2 separate regions of the Homo sapiens genome follow, and region 2 is linked to region 1. The links come from fine-mapping of genetic effects on gene expression. A gene starts in region 1. The other region holds a variant in brackets. All regions are shown on one strand. Distances are between the middles of the regions.

Region 1 (8,321 bases):
AGAGTCTCACTATGTTGCCCAAGCTGGTCTCAAACTCCTAGTCTCAAGCAATCCTCCCATCTCGGCCTCCCAAACTGCTAGGATTACAGCCTTGAGCCACCATGCCTGGCCAGATCTTTGTTTTCAAAAGAATCAATGAAAGCTTACAGGTTTAGTTGAATCTCGAAAGATATAACTACCCCACTACTTCCCCAGGGGTCCTTCCCCAGAGTGGGCAGGTCTCCCCGCCATGTTGGCCTCTATCTGGGCATAATGAGGGCACGTTGAGAGCCAACGTGACCATGTGAATTCAGGGACGTAGGGGTCTTTTCTTCATGCGCCCTCAGTGACTCCTTCCTCCTCTTCCCCCGGCTCTCTTCTTCTGCCATTCTCTACTCCTTTCTTTTTCTTTTCTTTTCTTTTTTATTTTTTAAGAGAGTATCTTGCTCTGTTGTCCAGACTGGAGTACAGTGGTGCAATCATAGCTCACTGCAGCCTTGAACTCCTGAACTCAAGCCATCCTCCTGCCTCAGCCTCCTGAGTGGCTGGGACTACAGGCATGTGCCACCGTACCTGGCTAATTTTTAAAATTTTTTTTGTAGAGATGGGGTCTCGCTATGTTGCCCAGGCTGGTCTTGAACTCCTGGCCTCAAGCGATCCTCCCACCTTGGCCTCCCGAAGCGCTGGGATTATAGACGTGAGCCACTGCACCCAGCCCTTTCTCTCTTCTTTCTCTGTGCTTTGTAGGCATAGCCAAGGCTATTGCTAAGCTCTGCCACTGACCACCCCTGGCCCCACCTCCAGGGCCCATAGTGCTGTTGCACCCAGGGGTGTCCTTCCTGGAGTCCTGGCTCCTGATAGGAACAGTCTTTCCACCGTGGCAGGGCCACATGGCCACACACAAGGCAGCCAAACACAGAGCTACTGGATGAAGCCACCAGGGCCATCACCTGAGAAGCTCTGCCCGACAGGGCGGCTCCTAGATCCAACCCAGGACACTGGCCCGGGGCCTGAAGAGAGGAAAGAGCCTACAGATGAAGACATGGCCAGTCTGACTTAAAAACCGGAGCAAAAGGAGACAGGCAGAGTTTATTTAGGTGCCTGGAGGCTGGGCCCAGTGCTCCCGCAGCATACCAGAGCCATGCGGGTGCTCCAGACGGCCGGGTGACTGTGACGATGGCACGAGATAGAAGCATGTCTGAAAAGAGGAGCAGCTGCCACCGGCAAAAAAAAAAAAAAAAAAAAAAAAAAAGCCAGGTGTGGTGGCTCACACCTGTAAACCCAGCACTTTGGGAGGCCAAGGCGGATGGATCACCTGATGCCAGGAGTTTGAGACCAGCCTGGCCAGCATGGTGAGACTCCATCTTTACTGAAAAAAAAAGGTGAAAATTAGCCAGGCACAGTGGCGCGTGCCTGTAATCTCAGTTACTCAGGAGACTGAGGCAGGAGAATCGCTGGAACCAGGAGGTGGAGGTTGCAGAGAGCCGAGATTGCACCACTGCACTCCAGCCTGGATGACAGAGTGCGACTCCGTCTCAAAAAAAAACAAAACAAAAAACTAGGCTCTTTGGGGACAAGGTGCATCTTTTTTTTTTTTTTTTGACAGAGTCTTCCTCTACTCCCAGGCTGGAGTGCAGTGGCATAATCACAGCTCACTGAAACTTCCACCTTCTGGGTTCAAGTGATTCTCCTGCCTCAGCCTCCCAAGTAGCTGGGATTACAGACCTGCACCACCACATCTGGCCCATTTTTGTATTTTTAGTAGAGATGGGGTTTTGCCACTTTGGCCAGGCTGGTCTCGAACTCCTGGCCTCAGGTGATCCGTCCCAAAGTGCTACGATTACAGGCAGGAGCCCCTGGCCCTGGCTGGGACAAGGTATATCTTACAAACACCAAGAAGACAGATTGCAGGTTGAGAAGGAAGTGAGTGAGAGGGTGAGGAACAGGAAGACAGGAAGCAGAACAAAAGCTCAGCTCTGGGAAACTCCCATAACAGGAAGTGGGGGAAAAGAATAGGAGGGAGACTGCCCAGCAGAATGGAGGAAGCCCGGGGAGTAAGAGCCCCTCCCAGAGCAGCTGACCCCCTCCATCCCAGGACACCAAGGCCCGTCAAACATATGAGAAAATCAGAACACCAGCTTTCTGGAACCATCTGAAACTGAGCTGGGACCCCTGGTGACCCCTTCGTGCCTCACTGATCAGGACTGAGGGTCCCTCTGGCACCTTCACAGTGACTAAGAGAGTCCAGAGCTGCCTGGATCTCAGAATGCTGCATTCTGGGATCCTCACTTTCTTGTACCACCAAAAGCTAACTAACCTCTCTGTGCCTTAATTTCCTAATCTATAAAAGGCAGAATAGGGCTGGGCGTGGTGGCTCATGCCTGTAATCCCAACACTTTGGGAGGCCAAGGCGGGCAGATTGCTTGAGGCCAGGAGTTTGAGACCAGCCTGGCCAACACGGTGAAACCCGTCTCTACTAAAACTACAAAAATTAGCCGGCTTGGGAGGCTGAGGCAGGAGAATCGCTTGAACCTGGTAGGAGGAGATTGTAGTGAGCCAAGATCGTGTCACCACACTCCAGCCTGGCCAACACAGCAAGACTCCATCTCAAAAAAAAAAAAAGAAAAACAAAAAACCAAGTCCCTTTCAGGTCTGAGTCTTCAGCCTCTTCATTTCCATAATAGTCTCTGCACACAGTGGGTGTTGAAACAACATTTAAGGATAATCACCACCACCTACCTCCAACACACTGCCAACTCCCTGATCTAAGACAGAAATACTTCTCCAGGGAAAACAAATGCCACAAATAACTTGAAAAGTAAGGTCATAATTGGTGGACAGATATGTGATAAAGCAAGTAAAGTGTCAATAGTAGAATCTAGTTGGTGGGGATGGGGATGCTGACTGTATAATTCTTTCAACTTGGCTGTATGTGGGAAAATCCTCAATAAAATGCTAGGGGAAGACGAAGGTTTTTTTTTTTAATTGTCACTTTCTATAGTGTTAAATATAAGTTAGCCTTCAAAGATAGCTCAGAGGCCAGGTGCAGTAGCTCATGCCTGTAATCCCAGCCCTTTCCGGGGCTGAGGTGGGAGGATCGCTTGAGCCGAGGAGTTCAAAACCAGCCTAAGCAACACAGGGAGACCCCATCTCTGTAAAAATAAAAAGTTAAAAAAAAAATTAGCCAGGTGTGGTGGCACATGCCTGTGATCCTAGCTACTTGGGAGGCTGAGGCAGGAGGATCACTTGAGCCCAGGAGTTTGAGGCTACAGTGAGCTATGATTGTGCCACTGCACTCCAGCCTGGGCAGCAGAGCGAGACCCTGTCTCAAAAAGGAAAACAAACAACAACAACAACAACAACAAAACAAAGATAGCTCAGAATTCACTGGATAAGCAAGCAGTTTAGCTAGACTCAGTCTGCAGGTTGAGCTCAATGAAAGGAGATTTTGACTTTCCTTCAAATAAATGACTAAGCACTAATTTCCTCATAGACATCATTGAATCTTCTGGGCAGTTAATGGGAGAAGACTCTGCTACAGTGAAAGGGAGGGGTGGGGGGTTGCTGTATTTACAAACTCCCTTCAGAGTAGAGACCCAGGCACCTGTCGTCACTTCCTAGCTACAGTTGACATCCGGTAACCATCCTTGGTCAGCCACACTTTCTTTCTGCCTCTGCCAAGAGGCTCCCCCTAGCTCCTCATGGGCCACTTTCTGGCTGTGAGCTGATCAGGCAACTTACACAGGGTCACTGGGTCAGAGGACTCTTGAAAGGGGGGTTGGAACATGAAGCCCCATGATTCAGGGATCCTGGGACTTGTTTGTTTTGTAGGGTTAGAGGGATGGAGGAAAATCTTCCAAATCAGCAGCCTCGAATTCACCAAGAATTTCTACAAGATGAATTTGAGTTGAACCTTCAGTCTTTCCACGAAGAAGGTCTGCTCGCCACCCTCAAAGCCATCTGCCTTTCTGTCTCAGTTTATTCACAGATCCTTTCAGAGACCAAAAAAAGCACCCAAGAGAGGCGGGGACAGAGATGTGGTAGAGGAAAAGACACAGTACAAAGAACGCTCCGCAAGCACTTACTTCCTCTGAGCCTTAGGAGTCCTACCTAAAAGGTTTCTTGCTTGTTTTTCTATTACACTGTCACTCCCATCCGGTATGCAAACAGTCGGCAATGCCTACTACAGTAGCTCGCTGGCTGCCAGGTGCAGGGGCTGTTCAAAAGCGACATCAGGGTCCTAAAAGGTGGGAAAAAGCAGCAGAACTTGCATGGTAGTTGATTCTTTCCTGAAGAATAGGGTCCGCCCAGCCCCACCGGGCAGGAGGTGTCCTGAGTCAGCCTGGCGTTCAGCCCAGTGCTGTGCACTTGGGTGACAGGTGGGGCCCCTGCACTGCCACCAGTAGCATATGTCGGAGCTCTGGGCCCTGACCATCTGCCAAAGCTAATCTTACGACAAGCAGATTTGCTCCCATCAATACCCAGGGAGAGGGATAGGCAGGCCCCTTGCTGCGTGATTCTCGAAAACAACCAGGATCCCGCGATCCGCTTCTCCTATGGCTCCAGTCCAAAGGCTGGAATGGGGGCGTCACCTGCACCAGGCAACTTCGCTAGCCTGTGGGCGTTCCAGGGCAGGGGACGGGGGCGGCACCTTCCAGGTGTGCAGGCGAGATGACAAGTGCGGTCCCTCCTTCCTCCCTCCCCGCGAGCAAACAGCCTGGGGGTGGTGGGGAAGGCGGCGTGCCCAGCCCTTCATCGCCCCATTCTTTCCCACGGCCCTGGCCGCCGCTGCAGCTGGGGCGCCACTCTGCACTCACCTGGGCCCGCGCCGGGCGGGGCGAAGTCGCGGTGGTAGGTCCTCGGCGTCCGGGAGGAGCGGACCGGCCCTCCCGGGGACCGGGCAAGAGGGTGGGCCGGAAGCGGCATCAGGCCCCGTGCCCATTGGCCAGCCTCGCCAGGACGCTGCGACCTGGGACGTGCGATTGGCTGCGGTGCGCCGCGTCGGTGCTGGCTTCGAGGTCGCGCGCCCGCCCACTTCCGGGGTCGCGCCAGGTCAGGAGTCCAGAGTCGGCTGAAGCGAGTTGCCGCGTTCTCTCTGGCGGCGCGACACCGGCCCGTGGACCGCCCGGCCGCCCTCCAGGACCCGGTCTGCAGGAGCGGAGAGGGCGGTGTGGACACCGCCTGCAGGCGAGGAGAAGGGGTGGCGGAGAGGGTACCTGGGTGCGTGGCTGTGCGGCGTCAGGAGGAGCAGGGTGTGGGCGCCCGGCCTGGGGCGTGGAGAGGACGCAGGGAACAGGTGTCTTCCTGGTATCCATCGAACTGAAACGTAGCCCTTGAGCACACACTACACTTAAAGCTTTACTCTTTCGAGGAGGAGTCCTGGAAGCATATGTGATTTTGTGACTATAGCATGGTGTGGTGTCAGTAACAGGCCCTGGATTGCTCAAACTCTATTGTCAGTGACAAAACCCAGTGTAAGCTGGCCTAATATATTAATAGTAATATGCGAGTCCTCCCGGGGTGGCGGGCACTGACGTAAGTGCTTTACTTGGGTCTTCTCATTTCATCCTCCCAGCAACCCAAAGAGCTGGCGGCGTCATTCCCATTTTACAAATGCGAACACGGGCTCAGAGATGGAGCGACTCACGTTGTAAGCGATGGAACTGGGATTTGAAAACACTGTATCCCGCCTGGCAGAAAACTGGCAAGGTTAGGATGGAGAAAGGAGAAAAAAGAAAGATGTCGGCCAGGTGCGGCGGTTCATACCTGTAATCCCAGCACTTTGGGAGGCCAAGGCGGGCGGATCACTTGAGGTCAGGGGTTTGAGACCAGCCTGGCCAAGATGGTGAAACCCCGTCTCTAGTAAAAATGCAAAATTAGCCAGGGGTGGTGGCGCATGCCTGTAATCTCAGCTACTCGGGAGACTGAGGCAGGAAAATCGCTTGAACTGGGGAGGTGGAGGTTGCAGTGAGCTGAGATCGTGCCACTGTGCCACCGCACTACAGCCTGGGCGACAAGAGCAAAACTCCTTCTCAAAAAAGAAAAAAAAGGGCATCTGATGGAAGGCTAGATACTACCCGACATTGAGCTAAACCAATGTCACCTGGTTGGACCTAGGGACCTATTCCTGCTCCCCCTCTAGTTCTGTCTCATTTCTGGGGTTGCACACAGGCTTTTCCTGGGCCTTCATGTTTGGGGAAGCCCCACACAGGCCAGCTCCAGTGGAAGAAAACGCCCCCAGAAGCCTCTTGTTCACCCCGGATGGCTCTGTGGAGTCCTGTGTCTGACCCTGACTTTAGCTTGGGCCTGAGGGACTGGCATTTGTGGACTTGGTCTGGAGATGTGGGCAGAGCCCCCCTCAAGCATAAGGGCTCAGCCAGGCACAGGGGGTGGCTCCTCAGAGGAAGATCAGGGTGCTATTAGCAGAAGGACGATGAGTGGGCCGGGCGCAGTGGTTCACGCCTGTAATCCCAGCCCTTTGGGAGGCCGAGGCGGGTGGATCATGAGGTCAGGAGATGAGACCATCCTGGCTAACATGGTGAAACACCGTCTCTACTAAAAACACAAAAAATTAGCCGGGCGTGGTGGCGGGCGCCTGTAGTCCCAGCTACTCGGGAGGCTGAGGCAGGATAATGAGGTGAACCCAGGAGGCGGAGCTTGCAGTGAGCTGAGATTGTGCCACTACACTCCAGCCTGGGCAACAGAGCAAAACTCTGTCTCAAAAAAAAAAAAAAAAAAAAAAAAGGAGGATGAGTGGTCGCTAGACTGCTGGAGAAACAGTCTAGAGGTAGGGAGCCCTGGGTTCTGTCCTGCCTGTGACACTCTGTAGCCATTTATCTCCTCTTTAGCTTTAGTTTCCACATTAAAAGAGGCATTGAAAAAAAATGAAAAAGAGGCATTGAATTAGGAGCTTTCTGTGGCCCCTTGCAGTTTTCATGTGTGGTGACAAAGTTCAATATAGTTTTCCTGAATTCAGGGGCTTGGGGACCCATGTCCCCCTATCCCGAGTTCTTTTTTTTTTTTTTTTTTTTTGAGAGGGAGTCTCACTCTGTCACCCAGGCTGCAGTGCAGTGGTGAGATCTCAGCTCACTGCAACCTCCACCTCCCAGGTTCAAGCGATTCTCCTTTCTCAGCCTCCTGAGTAGCTGGGACTACAGGTGTGTGCCACCACGCCAGGCTAATTTTTTTATTTTTAGTAGAGACAGGATCTCACCATGTTGGCCAGGCTGGTCTTGAACTCCTGACCTCAGGTAATCCACCCATCTCAGCCTCCCAAAGTGCTGGGATTATAGGCGTGAGCCAGCATGCCCGGCCAAAAGTTTGCTTTCTTTTGAGTCTGTGATCAGCCTTTCACTGAATACACAATTTACATGTGAGAGTGGGTAGAGGAATAGTCACATATGCCTTACTCACTGTCTGGCTCAGTGAATCTGCATTTTGTATAAACAATAGGACAGAGGAAGAAATCACATATGCATTTGTCTTCAGTGAGCGGAGGGCTGACTTTCTGCATTGTACCTGTGAAGATAAGCTATCAATTTACATTGCCAGGGAAAATTCATCAGAACTGTTTTAGGGCAAAGATCTTGAGGCCCGAAAGGAATTTGCTTGTGGAGAAATTGTGAGGGGGGTATGTAGCTCTTTTGAACTTTCTAGCTATCTTATTGAAGAATAAAACGGGAGGCAGGTTTGTCTGATGCGACCCTCAGCTTGACTTTTCTCTTTGGCGTAGTGATCTTGGGGTCCCGAGATTTATTTTCCTTTCACAGTAGGATACATTGATCAGGTCAGTGCCACAGTACAAGGGTCAGAAGTGTTTGAACCCGAGCGACTCCATCTTGAACAGGGGCTGGGTAAAATGAGGCTGAGAACTGCTGGGCTCCATCCCCAGGAGGTTGGGCATTCTTGGTCACAGGATGAAATAGGAGGTCAGCAGGTTTGGTATCACAAGATACAGGTCACAAAGCCCCTGCTGATAGAAGAGGATGCGGTAAAGAAGCCAGCCAAAACCACGATGGTGATGAAAGTGACTTCTGGTTGTCCTCACCGCTCATTATACTCTAATTATAATACATTAGCATGCTAAAAGACACTCCTACCGGTGCTGTGACAGTTTATAGATGCCATGGCAACGTCAGGAAGTTACCCTATATGGTCTGAAAAGGAGGGGAAACCTTAGTTCCAGGAATTGCCCTCTGCTTTCCTGGAAAACTCATGAATAATCCACCCCTTGTTTACCATAGAACCAAGAAATAACTATAAGTATACTCAGTCCAGCAGCTCATGCTGCTGCTCTGGCTGTGGAGTAGTCATTCTTTTATTCCTTTACTTTCTTTTATTTT
Region 2 (8,277 bases), 34 kb before region 1:
GTGGCCCTGGACAGCGGCGTGAGGCCCAAACCTCTAGGTAGGGCCCAGTTGGATCCTGATTTTTCATTGAGCCAGGCAGTCTCAGCCCGAGTTGAAAGGCCTCCTTAGCCTTGGAACTAACGTCTCTTCACCCTGACTTCTGGGCAAGGGGAGATCCCAGGAAAAGGTTTACCTGCAGGTTTTCCAAGGCCAAAGCCCCAGCAAGGACCCCCTCTCCAACCTTTGTTATAGGGCTACATGGGGCCTGGGCTCAGCATCCTCATTTGGGGTAAACTGAGGCCCGGGACAAGCCCGGCAGAGCCTAAGGCTGCTCGGGGAGTGGGGCCAATCAGAGATGATTGGAGCTGCCAGAAACTCTAATCAGATGACCTCCAATTCATCCTTAAAAGTTGAATGGTGGGGAGGGGCTGGAGTCTCTTCCTCCCTCCTCCCAAGTTGGGGCTCCTGGATGTGTTGACTCCAGGCTGTGCCTGGTTGTGGAGGGTCTGGGGCAGGGTGTGAGGGGTGCTGTGGAACTGGAGCAGGAGACAGGGCTGGGTGTTCCTGGTGCAGCCCTTCTGGGCATGGGAGAGAAGCCCCAAGGCCCTGGGTTGCTCCCCAAGAGCAGCTCTGAGGCCTCCTGCTCAGCCCTGGCCTGTGTGGGGAGCGAGTGTGCCCCCCACCCAGCCCCTGCCACCGCCGTTACTTATTCTCACTGATGTGGGGTTATCATATAATTGGCACCATGCTGTCTGTAGGACATTATGACGTGCTTGGGTTCTGGTTTGAGTTGGCAGCCCGTTGGGTCTCTCTGCCTGGTGGAGCCTTGGGGTGGCAGGTACGTCCCTTCCCCCGCCCAGGTGCTTCATCCTCATGGCCAGGCCTGGTGGCTTGGCACGTCTCTGCTGCCCCAAGCCCAGCTTCCTTCTGCTGGGCGTTCCTGCCCCACTGGCTCTGCCGGACTTGGCTACTGGACTCTCCCCTCCCTCATGCCTCTGCCCAGAGATGTCCCAAAGGCCCTCAGGGCCAAGCCGGGCCAGGGATGTGGCTGCCACAGCTGAGACCAAGGGCTCTGGCTGGCCCGTCCCCACCAGGTGGCCCTGCCCTCCCCAAGTTGGGGGTTGTGGCACTTGGGGTCAGGCCTAGCCACGTAAGGACACAGGTAACACCCTGAGGATCTGGCATTGGCAGCTTCAGGCCTAACTTTCCTGGTCAGGGCCCCTTAAGGTGGCCCGGGCACATTGGTTTCATTTCGATGAGACTTTGTCAGAGGCCTGGTCTGGTCCTGGCCCTACCGCCCCAGCTGTCCTTCAGCACAGCTCGGGGTGGGGACTCCAGGATGCTGGGTCTGCCCCTTGGGAGGGGCACTCTGGAAGGTCAGGGTGATCCACAACTGTGAGCTGAGGTTGGATGCAGCTGGGAGCTTGGGACAGAGAGAGCCCAGGGCTCCCCTGCTGTGGGGCACCTGCCCAGCGGGGACATGAGATGACAGAGACCTCCCCGGCGGGGGTACTCAGGTGCTACGAACATGGCAGCTCTTGTTTCCGGCTGAGCCATGGCCAGAGCAGGGCTCAGTCTGCCCCTGAACTTGCTGAATGGACCGACGAGCTGAGCCTGAAAGCCCAGAAGAGCCTCGGTCCAGAAGACGGAGACTCGGCCCGGTGTCCAGCGCAGCCCAGGGCTTCCTGGGGGGCAGCAGGAGTGCCTGGGGGTCACCGCCTTCAGGACAATGGCCTCAGTGGCTCTTTCTTTCTGCCCTGAACTGGCACCTGCACCTCCTCTGCTTCCTAGAGGGTGACCTGGGCCGAGCCGCCCAGTCCTTCTTCCCCTGAGGCCAGAGGGGACGCCCCGCGGCCACATCACACAGGATCCTCAGCAGCCATAGTCTCGCTTCAGGGTGTCCAGTGTTTCGAGGAGGAGAGGGGACAGGGGCCAGGTCCACTCCCTTGGCCCTCCTCTTGGACCCCAAGGCCAGGCCGGATCCTTTTATCCCGTGGGGAGCCCCTGCCTCGGCCATCGGGATGAGGTCCCTCAAGTCCCTGCACAAGCAGGTCAGAGACCCACCCACATGCCGTTCCTGGGCTACGCCACGCGCCATCCCCCGGGGCTGTGGACGCACCCAGCCCCCGACAGACAGGCGCCCTGAGAGCTCCGAAGGCGCGATCCCCATCCCCACCAGTGGAGAAGCCAGAACCGCGATTGTTGCATCTGGGAAAACCCAGCTGGAGCCGAACGGCCCGTGCCCCCACTGTAATTGTGCTGAAAATGTTTCTCAAATGACCCAAATTGGCTCTTATTTTTTCTAATGGCCCTTTCAAAGTATTCATGAAATTGATGCTGTGTCATAAAACAAAAATAAAAGATTTCACAGCAATGTCTGCTTCAGGCACACGGGGAACCACGCGTTTTAATCAACGTATCGATAAAAAACACCAGGGCACGGACACTCCAGGGGAAATGCTTATTGAGTAAAGTATCCGAGGAAGTGATGCAGGGCAGGTAAACAGCTGGTGCTCAGCAGCGAGAGGACGCGTCACTCTGCCGTTCTGCAGGGTGACGCCCTCCCCGTACCTCGCTGAGAGCCACCTGCAGACACAGCAGGCCACAGCAGAATGCACAGGTCACTGTTGTAGGGGAACAAATCGTAATGCCCAGAGAAAACCTGATAGTGAAATGTAAACAGACAGGACAGGGTGGTTCCAGGTGGCCACCACCGCCAGGCCCTTCCCGTGATTGATCTGAGAGCTTCACAGCCGGCGGCACTGGGACCCATTTCCAGAAACACTGGAACACCAGGTCTCTCAGATGCCCGCGGGAGGGGCCCCAGGGAGGCCTTTCTCAGCATCAGCTTTTGGGTGACAAACCCCATACAGCAAAACTGTACAAATACACACAACGGACCCCCAGCTGACAGTGAGACCAGGACCCTAGGAAGGTCAGGTGGTGGTGAAGTCATCCCCTCTCCAACCGAGCAGAGCCTGGGGTTGGGCTCTGATGACCTCCCGGGCAAAGTGTCCAGGTGGAGGAAGCAAACTCCCAAATGGGGCACA[G/A]AGGTAATAAAAAGCAGCTGAGAGACTGCGGGATGGGGTCGGGGCCACTTGGCCGACACCTTCTGCCTCGCCTGGCCGGGCCGGGCCAGCCTCTCGCCACAGGATGGAGGGTGACTGTGCACCCTGCTCCATGTACAGGACGGGCTGAGGGTCCCATGGCCACTGCCGACAGACACAGTAGTACTGCTCCCCACAGAAGCCCGCAGTCTGCACCCTCCTACAACATGATTTGACATCCAAGAAGCCCCTGTCACCAGCGCATCTGGGGAAGGGGCCGAATGGGGGTTGATGATGGTGACTGCACACACGGACACTGCCTCCAGCCATGGGGCAGCCTCTCATCCTCTCCCAGCCTCCCGTCTGGTACCCCGGCCCCCTCAGGGAAGAGGACATCCCATCCACTCCAGTGTTATTTCCAATCTGCTGTCTCCTTCCTTCACTTTTTTTTTTTTTTTTTTTTGAGATGGAGTCTCTGTCGCCCAGGCTGGAGTGCAGTGGCATGATCTCGGCTCACTGCAGCCTCCGCCTCCCGGGTTCAAACGATTCTCCTGCCTCAGCCTCCCGAGTAGCTGGGATTACAGGCACCCACCACCATGCCCAGCTAATTTTTTTTTTTTTGTATTTTTAGCAGAGATGGGGTTTCACCATGTTGGCCCGTCTGGTTTGAAACTCTTGACCTAGGTGATCTGCCCACCTCAGCCTCCCAAAGTGCTGGGATTACAGGCGTGAGCCACGGCGCCTGGCCTCCTTCCTTCACTTTTGAAATTAAAGCCTCTTTGCAAGTCCTGCTCTGAGAAATGGTCACTGCACATGGTAAAGAGGCCCTGAGCCCCATGGCCATCTCTCTTGGTGAGGGGTGGCGGGCCCGGGTGCTGTCTGAGATGCCAGCTCAGGAGGGCTCCATCCTGGCTCTGCTGCCCCAGGGCCGGCGTTCCCGGAGGGCTCCAGGTTCCCGGTTCTAGTCCTGGAAAGGCAGAAGGGAGAGGGGAAGGGAAGGGTGGGAGGGGCCTCTGGGAGGTGCAGCCCCACCCCATGCCCCACACCCCGGGACTCCTCGCAGACGGGGACACGTGTGGGAGTGTCCGCGGAGCTTCACATTTCAGGGCCGTCTCAGCCAGTGCCTCTGAAGTGGCCGCAGCCTTGGGGCCAGGTTCCCTCCTGAGTCCACCTGGGCCACATTGCTCCCACGGTGCACACTCCAGCACAAGAATGGCTCAGCCTTGATCCCCCAAACTGGGCACCGTCCCTGCATGTAGGTGTGTGGGGGGGCCTCAGCAGCAGACGGGGCCATGGGCCTCTGGTGGGGCACTCGGCTCCTGCTCCTGGGACGAGCTCCGGGGGGCCCTGGTGGCATTGGCCCGGACAGAGATATGGTCCCAGCCTCCCTGGAAGGAGAGAGCTGTGTCACCAGGGGACTCGGGGACTCGAGGATCCTGGAGGGGATCTGCCTGGGGGCCTCCCTGCAACCCAGACACCGGGTCCCAGGGGACAGTCCCACAGTGGTCGTCCCGTCTTCAGCACCCAGTGCAGGCACAAGGTGATAACACAGCCCAAGGCCGCGGGCCCCGCTCACCCCGATGCCGTAGTCCCAGCCGTGGCCCTTGGGCTCGTGAGGCTGCACGCCGGTGCGATGACACACTGTCCCCCGGCTCAGGCTGTGGCTGCCCTGCACTTTGTTGGCGATCACCCAGACCTGGAGCACAGACCCCATGAAGCCCTCAGCCCTACCTGCAGTGGGACGGCTGGGCATGGGATGGGGGAGACCAGAGAGGGAACCAGAGCACCCCAAGTGCCCGATACCCCCTGAGCACCCCCACCTGGTCCAGGGGCCCCACGGACACTCGGCACACGTTGTTGGACACGTGCTCCCAGCTGGAGCCCTGCGGGTAGCTGGGCGTGATCCCTTGGCGATACCACAGGTTTCCTGGGGAGAAAAGCAGTGAGGGTCAAAGGGGAAGACCTTCCCGGCCCCTCCTGCCCGTGCGGCCCGGCAGCCGGTGGCCAGGCCCCGCTCTAACCACTTCGGGGTTTGGGAAGCTGCTGGGGAGGCAGGAGGGTCCTGGCCCCTGAGTCAGGGCCACAGCCTCCTCCGCTTCTCCACACTCAGGAGCCTGGGCTGCAGCCAGCTCCGCCTTCTGCACACTCGGGGCGTCCCCCGAGCCTCATAATCGCCCTATTGTGCTGGGCACGGCCGGCCTCCTGATCCTCTTTCTGCTGAGGCAGAAACTATGGACAAGGGAAGTCCTAGCCAGAGCAATCAGGCAAGAGAAAGAAAGAAAGGGCATCCAAATCGAAAAAGAGGAAGTCACGGTGTGTCTGTTTGCCCATGATAGGATCAAATACCTAGAAAACCCTAAAGACGCCTCCAAAAGACTCCTAGATTTGACATATGAGTTCAGGAAAGTCTCAGGTTACAAAATCAATGCACACAAATTAGTAGCACTGCTACATGCCAGCAGCAACCAGGCTGAGAATCAAATTAACCCCTTTTACAACAGCTGCAAAAAATAACATAAAATACCTGGGAATGTACTTAACCAAGGAGGTGAAAGATCTCTATAAGGAGAACTACAAAACACTGCTGAAAGAAATCATAGATGACAGAAACAAATGGAAATACATCCCATATTCATGGATTGATGAGTATGGGATGAATCAGTGGAAGAATCAATATCATGAAAATGATCATACTGCCCAAAGCAATCTACAGATTCAATGCAATTCCTATTAAAATACTGTCATCATTTTTTACAGAATTAGAAAAAAAAATCCTAAAATTAATATGGAACCCACAAAGAGCCTCAATGCCCAAAGCAATTCTAACCAAAAAGAACAAATCTGGAGGCATCACATTACTGGACTTCAAATTATACTACAAGCCTACAGTAACAAAAACAGCATGGTGCTGCTATAAAAATAGACACATAGACCAGTGGAACAGAAGAGAGAACCAAGAAATAAAGCCAGATACCCACAACCAATTGATCTTTGAGAAAGCATACAAAAGCATAAACTGGGGAAAGGACACTTTATACAATAAATGGTGCTGGGTAAACTGGATAGTCGCATGTAGAATAATGAAACTGGATCCGTATCTCTCACCATATTAAAAAAACAACTCAAGATGAATCAAACACTTACATCTAGACCTAAAACCATACAAATTCTATAAAAAAAACCTAGGAAAAACTATTCAAGGGCTTTGCCTGGGCAAAGGATTTCTGACTAAGATTCCAAAAGCAAATGCAACAAAAACAAAAATAAAGGAGCCCTAATTAAACTAAAAAGTTTCTGCAGAGCAAAAGAAATAATCATCAGAGTAAACAGAAAACCCACAGGATAGGAGGAAATATTTGCAAACTATGCAACTGACAAAGGACTCATAACCAGAATCTAGAAGGACTCAAACAAATCAGCACACACACAAAAAACAAAAAACCAATAATCCCATCCAAAAGTGGCCAAATGACATGAATAGACATTTCTCAAAAGAAGATATGCGGCTGGGCGCGGTGGCTCATGCCTTTAATCCCAGCACTTTGGGAGGCCAAGGCAGGCGGATCACCTGAGGTTGAGAGTTCGAGACCAGCCTGACCAACACAGAGAAACCCCATCTCTACTAAAAATACAAAATTAGCCGGGTGTGTTGGTGCATGGCTGTAATCCCAGCTACTCGGGAGGCTGAGGTAGGAGAATCGCTTGAACCTGGGAGGCAGAGGTTGCAGTGAGCCGAGATCGCACCACTGCACTCCAGCCTGGGCAACAAGAGCAGAACTCCATCTCAAATTAAAAAAAAAGAAGATATACAAATGACCAACAAACATGAAAAAATGCTCAACACCACTAATCATCTGAGAAATGCAAATCCAAACCACACTGAGATATTAATACCACTTTATTTCTGCAAGACTGGCCATTATTATAAAGTCAAAAAACAACACAGCCAGGCGCGGTGGCTCATGCCTGTAATCCCAGCACTTAGGGAGGCGGAGGTGGGCGGATCACCTGAGGTCAGGAGTTCGAGACCAGCCTGCCCAACATGGCGAAACCCCATCTCTACTAAAAATACAAAAAAATTAGCCAGGCATGATGGCAGGGACCTGTAATCCCAGCTACTTGGGAGGCTGAGACAGAAGAATCGCTTGAACCTGGGAGGCGGAGGTTGCAGTAAGCCGAGATCATGTCACTGTACTCTAGCCTGGGCAACAAGAATGAAATTCCGTCTCAAAAACAAAAAAAAAATTTTTTAACGGTACATTTTACTTTATTTATTTTTATTTTTATTTTATTTTTTGAGACAGAGTCTTGCTCTGTCACCCAGGCTGGAGTGCAGTGGCATGCCTTGGCTCACTGCAATCAATATCCTCCTCCTCCCAGGTTCAAGCGATTCTCCTGCCTCAGCCTCCTGAGTAGCTGGGATTATAGGTGCGCACTACCACATCTGGCTTTTTTTTTTTTGAGACGGAGTCTCGCTCTGTCACCCAGGCTGGAGTGCAGTGACGCAATCTCGGCTCACTGCAAGCTCCGCCTCTGGGGTTCACGCCATTCTCCTGCCTCAGCCTCCCGATTAGCTTGGACTACAGGCACCCGCCACCACGCCCAGCTAATTTTTTGTATTTTTAGTAGAGACAGGGTTTCACTGTTAGCCAGGATGGTCTCGATTTCCTGACCTTGTGATCCGCCTGCTCCGGCCTCCCAAAGTGCTGGGATTACAGGTGTGAGCCACCGCGCTTGGCCTAATTTTTGTGTTTTTAGTAGAGATGGGTTTCACTAAGTTGGCCAGGCTGGTCTCAAACTCCTGATCTCAAGTGATCCGCCCACCTCAGCCTCCCAAAGTGCTGGAATTATAGGCATGAGCCACTGTGCCTGGCTAATGGTACATTTTAAAATAACTGAAAGAGGGCCAGGCGCGGTAGCTCACACCTGTAATCCCAGCACTTTGGGAGGCCGAGGTGGGCAGGTCACTTGAGGTCAGGAGTTTGAGACCAGCCTGGCCAATATGGTGAAACCCCGCCTCTACTAAAAATATAAAAATTAGCCAGGTGTGGTGGTGCGTGTCTGTAATCCCAGCTACTTGGGAGGCTGAGGCAGGAGAATCGCTTGAACTCAGTAGGTGGAGGTTGCAGTGAGCCGAGATTGCACCACTGCACTCTAGCCTGGGAGACAAGAGCGAAACTCCATCTCAAAGAAAAAATAATAACAATAATAACTAAAAGAGTAGAATTGGATTGTTTGTAACATAAAGGCT

Evidence for each region. PIP is the estimated chance that this variant, and not a neighbour inherited with it, causes the effect.
Region 2: its variant is fine-mapped to the expression of TECPR1 in lung (TOPMed, PIP above 0.99). The same link has a PIP of 0.9 or more in nucleus accumbens, putamen, tibial artery and whole blood.

The regions. Positions count from the first base shown.
Region 1 is chr7:98,247,330-98,255,650 of GRCh38, forward strand. TECPR1 (tectonin beta-propeller repeat containing 1) reads right to left here and starts at 4,903. Exons shown (of 26, transcript NM_015395.3): 1 at 4,797-4,903; 2 at 4,065-4,219. LOC124901706 (a long non-coding RNA gene) reads left to right here and starts at 5,030. Exons shown (of 2, transcript XR_007060448.1): 1 at 5,030-5,199; 2 at 5,555-8,321. RefSeq lists enhancers at 4,550-5,293, 8,008-8,302 and silencers at 4,610-4,999, 5,090-5,189.
Region 2 is chr7:98,213,090-98,221,366 of GRCh38, forward strand. It overlaps BHLHA15 (basic helix-loop-helix family member a15), which reads left to right. Exons shown (of 2, transcript NM_177455.4): 2 at 1-2,368. TECPR1 (tectonin beta-propeller repeat containing 1) reads right to left here. Exons shown (of 26, transcript NM_015395.3): 24 at 4,847-4,953; 25 at 4,603-4,722; 26 at 1,535-4,414. The coding sequence ends at 4,301. Among named protein-coding and RNA genes, the nearest start is that of BHLHA15, 5.8 kb to the left of the region's middle. RefSeq lists an enhancer at 5,197-5,256. The variant G/A (reference allele first, on the strand shown) is at 3,030.